3 linked regions of the Homo sapiens genome follow. Changing the gene in region 1 together with any one later gene gives a genetic interaction. Each region holds a gene or a part of one and is shown in the gene's direction. Other genes may lie near its edges.

Region 1 (3,648 bases):
GGGCCACGTGGGCCGTGGGGAACCGCGTGGCCCCGGCGGGGAAGGGCAGAGAGGATACGCGAGCCACGAGAGAGGGGCCACTCGGGACCGCGGTGCGCGACTTCTCGGAAGTTGGGGGACTAAAAGGGGTCTGATTTTGGGGGTCGGTCGGTATTGAAGACCCAGAAAGCCAGGGGAAGTAGAGGACCTGGAGGAACTGGGTATGAGACTGGGGGCTTGACCAAGGTTTGGGTCGGGGTCAGGCGTTGGGGGTGGAGCGCCGATAGCGGCGCGGACGGGTTTGGGTGCCGTGGAAGTCGCTGTGGCTGGCCAGCCCTAAGCAGTTAATAGGGGCGCTCGGGGTAGGGAGGTCTGTCACTGGGCGAGGTGAAGTGAGGAAGGGGAGGGACGTCTTTTTTGCGTTCTGCATCCGTCTGTCGTCCGTCGGTCTTACGGTGGCCGGGCGTGGGGCTACTCGAGCAGCCTGGCCGTGGCCACCGGCGGCTCTGGGTGCTTGAGGCTTGCGGGTAGCGCCGGCCCCCACGCCGGCCGGAGCATGCGACTAACCGGCCTCATCCGCATGCGTCTTGTCCTGGCTGCCTTCTGGCCCTGACGGCCGGAGTGTCGGATCCTAGATGGGGACCCTAGGTGGGAGCCGCGGGGTCACATCGGGGTCACCCCGGGCTGAGCTCGTCTGACCGGCTCCCGCGCCCCTCCTCCCCCGGCCACCGCTGCCGGGCTCACCTCGCTCCCATTGGTTCCGGCCAGGCTGTTACTGAGGCGGAGACACGGGTGATGATTGGCTTTCTGGGGAGAGAGGAAGTCCTGTGATTGGCCAGATCTCTGGAGCTTGCCGACGCGGTGTGAGGACGCTCCCACGGAGGCCGGGTAAGCGGCCGCTGCGTTTTGGGTCGGCCCAGTGGCTCCGGACTGGAAGCCTGGCAGCGCAGCCACCCCGTCCCTCTGACCGGCCTTTTGGTTCCCTGCCACACACGTCCTGACTCCCAGCCACACTCCTGGGCCTCTAGGGAGTGGTTGGGCCGGGCCTCCCTTTGGGGAAAGCTAAGGCCGGGCCCTTTGCACAAATGACAAATTGGTGGATGCCACAGTCCGCCCATCCCAGCCCCTGGGCCTTGACTGTGTGCTGGCCAGCTCGTCTCACTCCTTTTCCTTCTCTCTAGAATTGGCTGTGAAAGGACTGAGGCAGCCATCTGGGGGTAGCGGGCACTCTTATCAGAGCGGCTGGAGCCGGACCATCGTCCCAGAGAGCTGGGGCAGGGGGCCGTGCCCAATCTCCAGGGCTCCTGGGGCCACTGCTGACCTGGTAAGGGAAACTCTGGGGCCGAGCTGGCTGGATGTACACTGGCAGCTCTGGTTTTGCCTCCAGTAAGAGCATAATTTCTTATCCCCAACTCAGGCTGGATGCATCGGGCAGTGGACCCTCCAGGGGCCCGCGCTGCACGGGAAGCCTTTGCCCTTGGGGGCCTGAGCTGTGCTGGGGCCTGGAGCTCCTGCCCGCCTCATCCCCCTCCTCGTAGCGCATGGCTGCCTGGAGGCAGGTGAGAAGTTGGGGCCCTCTGTCTCCAGGCACACCTCTTTCCATCTCTGTATCCCTCAATCTGTGTCATTCTCCATGGGTTCCTGTCATTCTGTGGGCTTCCGTGCATCAGCCCCCTCCTGCCTAGGTAGGACAAGACTGCTCCTTTTTGCCGTATATAACAGACTCCTTCTCTCTCCAGATGCTCAGCCAGCATTGGGCAGCCCCCGCTTCCTGCTCCCCTACCCCCTTCACATGGCAGTAGTTCTGGGCACCCCAGCAAACCATATTATGCTCCAGGGTGAGTGGATATTTGAAGGTTCTGGGAGTGGGAGGTAAGGCTGGGGCCTTGAAAGAGTCCCCTCAAGCCCAACCCCCACCCACACCCCCACCCCTTCTGCTCTGTAGGGCGCCCACTCCAAGACCCCTCCATGGGAAGCTGGAATCCCTGCATGGCTGTGTGCAGGCATTGCTCCGGGAGCCAGCCCAGCCAGGGCTTTGGGAACAGCTTGGGCAACTGTACGAGTCAGAGCACGATAGTGAGGAGGCCACACGCTGCTACCACAGCGCCCTTCGATACGGAGGAAGCTTCGCTGAGCTGGGGCCCCGCATTGGCCGACTGCAGCAGGTAGGAGAAGGCAGGGCGTGGGGGACGGGATTGTACGATTGTGCCTTCTGGCTCAGTGCCCCACCTGACATCTGCCCCTGCCCCGTGTCCCCCCACCCCCAGGCCCAGCTCTGGAACTTTCATACTGGCTCCTGCCAGCACCGAGCCAAGGTCCTGCCCCCACTGGAGCAAGTGTGGAACTTGCTACACCTTGAGGTGAGGCTGGCACTGGGTGGGTTAGGGAGGAGAGCCAGGCTGTGCCTGCACCCGTGCCATTTTCTCTTCTCTCTTTTTGTTCTCAGCACAAACGGAACTATGGAGCCAAGCGGGGAGGTCCCCCGGTGAAGCGAGCTGCTGAACCCCCAGTGGTGCAGCCTGTGCCTCCTGCAGCACTCTCAGGCCCCTCAGGGGAGGAGGGCCTCAGCCCTGGAGGCAAGCGAAGGAGAGGCTGCAACTCTGAACAGGTGTGGGTATAGGGGGGCCAGCAGGCAGTAAGTAGGCAGGACTTGGGAATGGGATTCTCACACTCTCTTCTCTCCTAGACTGGCCTTCCCCCAGGGCTGCCACTGCCTCCACCACCATTACCACCACCACCACCACCACCACCACCACCACCACCACCCCTGCCTGGCCTGGCTACCAGCCCCCCATTTCAGCTAACCAAGCCAGGGCTGTGGAGTACCCTGCATGGAGATGCCTGGGGCCCAGAGCGCAAGGGTTCAGCACCCCCAGAGCGCCAGGTGAGCCCCTGCCTGTTGCCTTTCACCTCTCACCTACAAGTCCCACGCTCTCTATTCCTCATCCTGCATCCCTGTTTATCTCCTATAGGAGCAGCGGCACTCGCTGCCTCACCCATATCCATACCCAGCTCCAGCGTACACCGCGCACCCCCCTGGCCACCGGCTGGTCCCGGCTGCTCCCCCAGGCCCAGGCCCCCGCCCCCCAGGAGCAGAGAGCCATGGCTGCCTGCCTGCCACCCGTCCCCCCGGAAGTGACCTTAGAGAGAGCAGAGTTCAGAGGTCGCGGATGGACTCCAGCGTTTCACCAGCAGCAACCACCGCCTGCGTGCCTTACGCCCCTTCCCGGCCCCCTGGCCTCCCCGGCACCACCACCAGCAGCAGCAGTAGCAGCAGCAGCAACACTGGTCTCCGGGGCGTGGAGCCGAACCCAGGCATTGTGAGTGACAACTGAGGGTGGAGGGGGGGATGGGTGGAGCTTGTCTTGAGGCAGCCCGAGCAATGCTCCTACCACCTGCTTCTACACTTGCAGCCCGGCGCTGACCATTACCAAACTCCCGCGCTGGAGGTCTCTCACCATGGCCGCCTGGGGCCCTCGGCACACAGCAGTCGGAAACCGTTCTTGGGGGCTCCCGCTGCCACTCCCCACCTATCCCTGCCACCTGGACCTTCCTCACCCCCTCCACCCCCCTGTCCCCGCCTCTTACGCCCCCCACCACCCCCTGCCTGGTTGAAGGGTCCGGCCTGCCGGGCAGCCCGAGAGGATGGAGAGATCTTAGAAGAGCTCT
Region 2 (3,648 bases), on another chromosome or scaffold:
TATGCCCACGAGTTCAACATAGTAAAACACTGTCTCACAAACAAACAAAGACCAAAAACAGGCTGGGCACAGTGGCTCATGCCTGTAATCCCAGCACTTTGGGAGACCAAGGCGGGCGGATCACCTGAGGTCGGGAGTTCGAGACCAGCCTGACCAACATGGAGAAACCCTGTCTCTACTAAAAATACAAAATTAGCCAGGTGTGGTGGCGCATGCATGCCTGTAATCCCAGCTGCTCGGGAGGCTGAGGCAGGAGAATCACTTGAACCTGGGAGGCGGAGGTTGCCATGAGCCGAGATCGTGCCATTGCATTCCAGCCTGGGCAACAAGAGCTAAACTCTGTCTCAAAAAAAAAAAAAGAAAAAAAACCACACACACACAGATGGGCTATTCTGGGGAGCAGCTAGCAGTTTAGTGCAGCTGGAGTGTGGTACAAAAGTACTATGGTAAGAGAGGCTGCCGAAAGCATACGCGGGGTCATTTTGTAAAGGGTGGTAGCAAAATGCAGGAAGAGGAACATGAGTTTAAGTCCAAGCTTTGCCACTTCTTTACTCTCTTGGCCAAGTTACTTCTCTGAGCCTTAATATAAAATAATATATACTTCAATATAGTAATACATTATCTCACAGTATAATACAATTATCTTAGAATTGTTTGATGATTAAATGTAATACAGTATCTGGTGCAGAATTAGGGCTTAAAATATTTACTTTTTTTTCTTTTTTTTTTTTTGAGACAGAGTCTCGCTCTGTTTCCCAGGCTAAAGTGCAGTGGCACGATCTCTGCTCACTGCAAGCTCCGCCTCCTGGGTTCACGCCATTCTCCCGCCTCAGCCTCTTGAGTAGCTGGGACTACAGGTGCCCGCTGCCACGCCCGGCTAATTTTTTGTATTTTTAATAGAGACGGGGTTTCACCGTGTTAGCCAGGATGATCTTGATCTCCTGACCTTGTGATCCGCCCGCCTCGGCCTCCCAAAGAGCTGGGATTACAGGCGTGAGCCACTGCACCTGCCCAGGTCTTAAAATATTTCTAAACATTTTGGACATTATTTTCTTGTTTTATTGTTCAGATGGAGTCTTACTCTGTTGCCTTGGCTGGAGTGCAGTGGCGCAGTCTCGGCTCACTGCAATCTCTGCCTCCCAGGTTCAAGGGATTCTCTTGCCTCAGCCTCTTAGGTAACTGGGATTACAGGCATCTGCCACCACACCTGGCTAATATTTGTGTTTTTAGTAGAGACTTGGTTTCACCTGTTGGCCAGGCTGGTCTTGAACTTCTGACCTCAGGTGATCCACCTGCCTCTGCCTCCCAAAGTGCTGGGATTACAGGTGTGAGCCACAGTGTCAGGCCTGGACGTTATTTTCTGAGTGATATATTAAACAGGAGAGAAAGAGGATTGGATTGCATTTTGGAACACTCACTGAGAGCGGTGTGGAGAGGAGAGCATTTGGGGATATTGTAGTCCCAGAGCTGCATAGTCCCAGAGGAGACAGCTCGGGGGAACTTGAGTTTGGTAACTCACTGGATATGATGGAGGGAGAGAGAAGATTCAAGAAGCACCAAGACTTCTGGTTAGAATGACAAAGTGGATGGGGCCTGCAAGGGAGGAATGGGTGGTGTGGGGAGGGGAACACGATGGAGATTAGGCGTTTAGGTTTGGACATCCACATAGAGATGCCAATGGCAGATAGAATTTTGGGTCTGGAGACAGAATTTGTAGTTGTTGGAACTGAAACTGGGAGAGGTTGCAGTCTCTCAAGGGGGTGTGGAATGTGAAAGGTAGAGGGCTGAAGAAGGAATCCCGGAATAGCTGAGGAGGCAAAGAAGGGCAAGGGAGATAGCCAGCATGGAAAGGAAGAAAGAGGGAGTGTGTCTAGCAAGGTCAGAGGCACTGGGAAGTCCCAGATACTGATGACTGACATCAGCTGCAGGAGTGAGCTGGTGGTGGTTACCGAGAGTGATGTCAGTGGAGTGGTGGGCAGTAAGTGTGAAGAGGCCAGGAAGGTGGTGAGTGAGATGCCTTTTAAATAGTGAGCAGAGGTAGAAAGGACTACATTTCAGCTAAGCATCCATAGCTGGCTTCAGATATAAAACCTTGATGTGCCATTAAAAAAAAAAAAAAAAGAACCCCCTTCTTTCAGTGCACCGCTCTTCAAAGTGTGGAATGTGGACCACCTGTGGCACAATTGCCTGGAGCACATTAGCCCAGCCTTCTCAATAAGAGTGAGAGTGTGTGTGTGTGTGTGTGTGTGTGTGTGTTCTGGGACTCTGCATTTCAGGTAAGCTTTCTAGTGATTCTAGTGTTGACCCAAGGCTGGAGGGCCTCTGTTTTAATGTGAGCTCCTTAGCTGTCCCCTTGAATTCCCAGAAAGCGTGGCAGGGCCTGCCTAGTTCTGGGTGCTCATCCCGACCCCGCCTGAGGGTTTTCAGTGTGTGAATTACTGCAGTAGGAAATATGGAGAAGTGATTCTCCTCCCTTTACTACGGTATTGGTGAACTCTTTAGTTTTCCCTGATGATGTTAAGTGAACGTGCCCAGTGGGGTACCTGTCACATATACAGTGGGTGTATGTGAGTGCTTCTCTTTCCCCGGCTGCTCTCCCTAATACCGCATCAGTGGTTATCTCCAGGCAGAGATGTAGGCCAGGTTAGGTCAAGTATTAGGCAGATTGAGTCTGAGTTTTTCCTGAGGAGGAAAATGTGTAGTGTATAGCAAGATCAAGATGCTAGTGGCTGTGGAATTACTGTGACAGGGCTAACTGCCGAGACCAGCTCGGTCGTGGAGACCCTAACCCAGTGGCGCTAGAGGAATTAAAGACACACACACAGAAATATAGAGTGCAGAGTGGGAATTGGGGGGCTGACAGCCTTCAGAGCTGACAGCCACGAACAGAACTTTACCTACATATTTATTGACAGCAAGCCAGTGATAAGCATTGTTCCTATAGATTATAGATTAAAACGGGAAACAAAGGGATGGGCTCTGGCTAGTTATTTGCAGCAGGAACATGTCCTTAAGGCACAGATCACTCATGCTATTGTTTGTGGTTCAGGAACGCCTTAAGCGAAAGCCGCCCTGGGTGGGCCAGGTATTCCTTGCCCTCATTCCAGTAAACCCACGACCTTCAGTGTGGGCATCATAGCCATCAACGAGCATGTCACAGTGCTGCAGAGATTTGTTTATGACCAGTTTTGGGGCCTGTTTTTGGCCAGATTTGGGGGCCTGTTCCCAGCAGCTAACTACTGGAGCATTTTTAGGTCTGAGAACATCTTTCTCTGAGACTTTTTTCTGCAGCACTAGAGAATAACAGCTTGAAACTCTATTAAAATAAAGTGGCCAGGTGCAGCGACGGATGCTTGTATTGTAGTTCTGCTGAGGCAAGAGGATCTCTTGAGCTAAGGAGTTCAAGGCTGCAGTGCCCAATGATTGAGGCTGTTCATAGCCACTGCACTACAGCCTGGGTGACATAACGAGACCCTGTTTCTAAAAATAAACAAAAAAATAGGCCAGGCGCAGTAGCTCACACCTGTAATCCCAGCACTTTAGGAGGCCAAGGTGGGCGGATCAGTTGAGGTCAGGAGTTCGAGAACAGCCTGGCCAACATAGTGAAACCCCATCTCTAATGTAAATACAAAAATTAGCCAGGCGTGG
Region 3 (3,571 bases), on another chromosome or scaffold:
TCTGTACCTGTCAGATTGAATAGGCTGAAGGTGGTTGCTAAGGAACAAGGATTCTAAATGATTAGGGTTACACTTCTAAAAAAAGCAGGCCTTGTCTTTTATGTCTGTGTTTTGTGTTAGAGTGCATTTAGAGATTTTTGTTCTCTGCTTTCAAGTTAGAAGTTAGTTCATCTGATCATCTCCCAGCATATATCTGTTTTTATTGCCTTGAGAATCTGAGCACTTCAGACGTTCATGTATCCTTGGCCCTGAGTGACCATGTTCTGAGTGAGTTGCTAAGTTTGGTTTTGTCCACTGTCATGTAGCAAGTGGTCCTACTTGTTACTAGCAAGGGTTGCAGGGATTTGGAAGATTCTAGGTTTCCCCTGTAGTTGGCAGGTTTTTTTTTCAGCAAGGGCTATGTGTGGAAATTCTAGGCAACTAGAAAGATGAGTCGTGTTCAGTTTTAAAATTGTTTGGCACTGAGGCTGCCGGTTGCAACTCAGGTGTCTTTGGCTGATATTCTTCAGTCATTCATGAGTCTTGGATATGAACATTCGTAACCTGTTAGCTGGCCCCAAGTATGTCTTTAACAAGCATTTGTTTGAATCAAAGTGTTTCTGGCTAAGGATCATTTGGCTCTTCCAGAAAACCGGCTTGGTCACCATATTGTTCTTTTGATATTGTCACTCTGAGTCTCTGCTTTACCAGTTACTGGATCAAGGATAAACAAGTCTAATCTGCAGCTGTCTTTGGGACTGTTTCGTAAGTCAGATTAAGTAAAGGCAGGTTTCTAATAACTTTAAAACAAGTTCATTTATAAGGATACTGAGCCTACTTATGTTTAAAAATCTAGACTAAAATATTGTTTAAATACAGTATTTACAAACTTATGCAGAGCCTGTCAGTCATGGTTTATGGGAACTGACATCACATTTTCTTCGTCATTCTTCTGTTGGTTCATTCAGCTGAAGTCTTTGATACTACTAGTCGTCTTCTGCCAATGGGGGCACTTAAGTTGAAGAAGGCCTGACATTTATGAACTGCCAACACTGTTTAGAGGAAAAAAATGGCTTATTGGGCCTTAGCATGTTACTGAGTTGCATAATATTTTGAATGTATTCTAGGTATCAGAAGAGCAAGGTCAAGAAAACCCAGCAGACCACGATCCTATTCATGATCAAAGCTGGTATTTAGACCGATCATTAAGAAAACGTCTTCATCAAGAGTATGGAGTTCAAGGCTGGGCTATTGTACAGTTTCTTGGGGATGTGGTGTTTATCCCGGCAGGAGCTCCACATCAGGCAAGAATCATTACTTTTTCTTTAATCTCTTTATGTCATGAACTTTTGGGTTTGTTACTGATATATTACTTGGTGTTTTTCAGGTTCATAACTTATATAGCTGCATCAAAGTGGCTGAAGATTTTGTTTCTCCAGAGCATGTTAAACACTGCTTCTGGCTTACTCAGGAATTCCGATATCTGTCACAGACTCATACCAATCACGAAGATAAATTACAGGTAAAAATAGCACCAATTCCTAGCATTCTTTGGCTATGGCTATGGCTTCATGGCCCATTCTTCACCTTATAAAGAGAGTCAGTGAACTTGGCCATATCGTACTTAGTACACAGTGAGTCGAGGAACTTGCTTTATATCTAGTACTACTATCTACTTAAGTGAGGGAGGAACAAGAGGAAATCTCACCTTGGTTTGATTTGATATTGTTTAGAATCTATAAGGGACTGTCCCCACAGAGAAAGGCCTTAGTACTGAAAATGAATAGATGTGACTTCTGATCTTGGCCCAGCTGCCTGTCGGGGTCTTGAACACAGTGCTTAACCTTCAGTGCTGCAGTGTTCTCATCACTCTTAGGTAGAGCAGAACTGAATCTCTGAGACTCAAAGAGGTCTGAGGGGGTGGTATTTTCAAAAGGATTTCAGTAATGAATTATGTAACATAATTTCATGTTTGGAAAATAAGGGAAAAATGATAAAAGCTGTACCTTGGAACTTGCCTCTCCCTGTACTCACTGTGAGTAGGTCTACGTGGTATCAAAACCTCTAAAAGGGGGAAAATGAGTTCTTGAAATCATGGGTTTAAAATGTATGTGAAATACTGGTCTGAAGGAGCCCAGGGACCTTTTGCAATGTTGACATTTCATACGAATATTGAATTTTAAATTCTGAGAGAAGGTAATAAAATTAGTAGGAGGAAGCTTATTCTTAGTGACAGGTTTTAGATTTAAATGTAAAATGCCCATATTTTCTCCTACTATTTTTAGGTGAAGAATGTTATCTACCATGCAGTGAAAGATGCAGTTGCTATGCTGAAAGCCAGTGAATCCAGTTTTGGCAAACCTTAATCTCCCTGCACATTGGAAATGAATTACAGGCAGCTGTTCAAACTCTTCAGGCAGGATTCCTGTGGACTTTGAGATTCATGTTACCTCATCTTCTTTTTTAAACTGTACCCAACTTGTGAGGGTACTCTGTCTAATGTATATTTCTAGTGTTTACAGACAGTAAATGTGTATATGTAGTAACTATTTACAGAACATGCATCCTTAAACTGTGACTTCTCACCTAGTGCAGAACTTTTACCAGGCTGTAAAAGCAAAACCTCGTATCAGCTCTGGAACAATACCTGCAGTTATTCTTCAGCTGTTTGGACAACTTAGATTGGGTTTATAACTATTAGGAATCACTGCACAGTTTATTTGGGTTGTGTTTTGTGTCTGAGTCCCCTCCCTCATCCCTTAGGGTCCAGAAGAGCAATGGAGGAAGTGACAGCTAATGTTGCAGTTCTTATTGTATGGCATAGGACTGGCATTATATAGCAGAAATCAACTACTGTACAATTTCTTGGGGTTAACCATCTTTAGTTAAATGGAATTTTAATTTAAATGACGCTTTGCTAATTTTAAGTGTTAAGCATTTTGCATTAAAATATTCATATAATATTTTGGCTCAGTTTATTGGCATTATCCTCTCATTGTGGTTTCAACACAACTTTCTTCAAATGCAGGTGTAATGGATTGCTCCAAGAACTCTTCTTAAAAGCAAAGAAATCAGATGCTATAGTGATTTTCTTAGTGATTATTACAAAGCTAACATGGAAATTTCTGCTCAGCCAGGTAGAAACCCTGTCACACTTTGTCAAGGAAACACCACCAATTAATTAAATTTAGAAACAGGAATTAACCAAGAAACCAAATAGTGCCAGGCTAAATGGTTCTAAAAAGGTAAGTAATGAAACACTTTGTTTTATGGCCCTTCATAATGTTAAGTTTATGAAGGAAAATGAAATTATAAGTTCTAGGACAGTACTACCTAAAATATTCATCTCTGTGAAGGAAAAAAATTCACAAAGAAGCGCCTTTCTTTAGCCCACTGATTCTCCTAGGCCACTCTTTCATTTAATTTCTTTAAAAAAAGGAATTAAACATAGAAATCAGATAGTACATAGACAAAGCCTAGAACCTGAGTTTTAATTTGTGAGCTGAGTAGGAGGCCAGAGGATCCGTATTAAATTTCAGAACCCATTGTCAAATCTAAGGTCAAAGATTTGCTCTAATGTTTTCTTCTAGGA

Evidence for each region.
Region 2: changes in KDM6B (region 1) and PRMT7 together harm fitness more than expected from each alone (negative genetic interaction), as found in Homo sapiens cells (one large-scale study listed by BioGRID).
Region 3: changes in KDM6B (region 1) and KDM3A together harm fitness more than expected from each alone (negative genetic interaction), as found in Homo sapiens cells (one large-scale study listed by BioGRID).

The regions. Positions count from the first base shown.
Region 1 is NC_000017.11:7,844,154-7,847,801, forward strand, and holds part of KDM6B (lysine-specific demethylase 6B), read left to right. Parts: intron 1-723; coding exon of another isoform or gene 724-786; 5' UTR 787-867; intron 868-1,160; 5' UTR 1,161-1,300; coding exon of another isoform or gene 1,301-1,375; intron 1,376-1,396; 5' UTR 1,397-1,401; coding exon 1,402-1,538; intron 1,539-1,718; coding exon 1,719-1,817; intron 1,818-1,924; coding exon 1,925-2,144; intron 2,145-2,246; coding exon 2,247-2,339; intron 2,340-2,425; coding exon 2,426-2,587; intron 2,588-2,665; coding exon 2,666-2,863; intron 2,864-2,951; coding exon 2,952-3,299; intron 3,300-3,392; coding exon 3,393-3,648. Other genes in the region: translation initiation factor IF-2, read right to left, coding at 724-786, 1,301-1,375. UniProt on the Homo sapiens protein: Histone demethylase that specifically demethylates 'Lys-27' of histone H3, thereby playing a central role in histone code. Demethylates trimethylated and dimethylated H3 'Lys-27'.
Region 2 is NC_000016.10:68,317,486-68,321,133, forward strand, and holds part of PRMT7 (protein arginine N-methyltransferase 7), read left to right. Parts: intron 1-3,648. UniProt on the Homo sapiens protein: Arginine methyltransferase that can both catalyze the formation of omega-N monomethylarginine (MMA) and symmetrical dimethylarginine (sDMA), with a preference for the formation of MMA.
Region 3 is NC_000002.12:86,489,775-86,493,345, forward strand, and holds the end of KDM3A (lysine-specific demethylase 3A), read left to right. Parts: intron 1-1,106; coding exon 1,107-1,283; intron 1,284-1,366; coding exon 1,367-1,501; intron 1,502-2,264; coding exon 2,265-2,345; 3' UTR 2,346-2,942; downstream 2,943-3,571. UniProt on the Homo sapiens protein: Histone demethylase that specifically demethylates 'Lys-9' of histone H3, thereby playing a central role in histone code.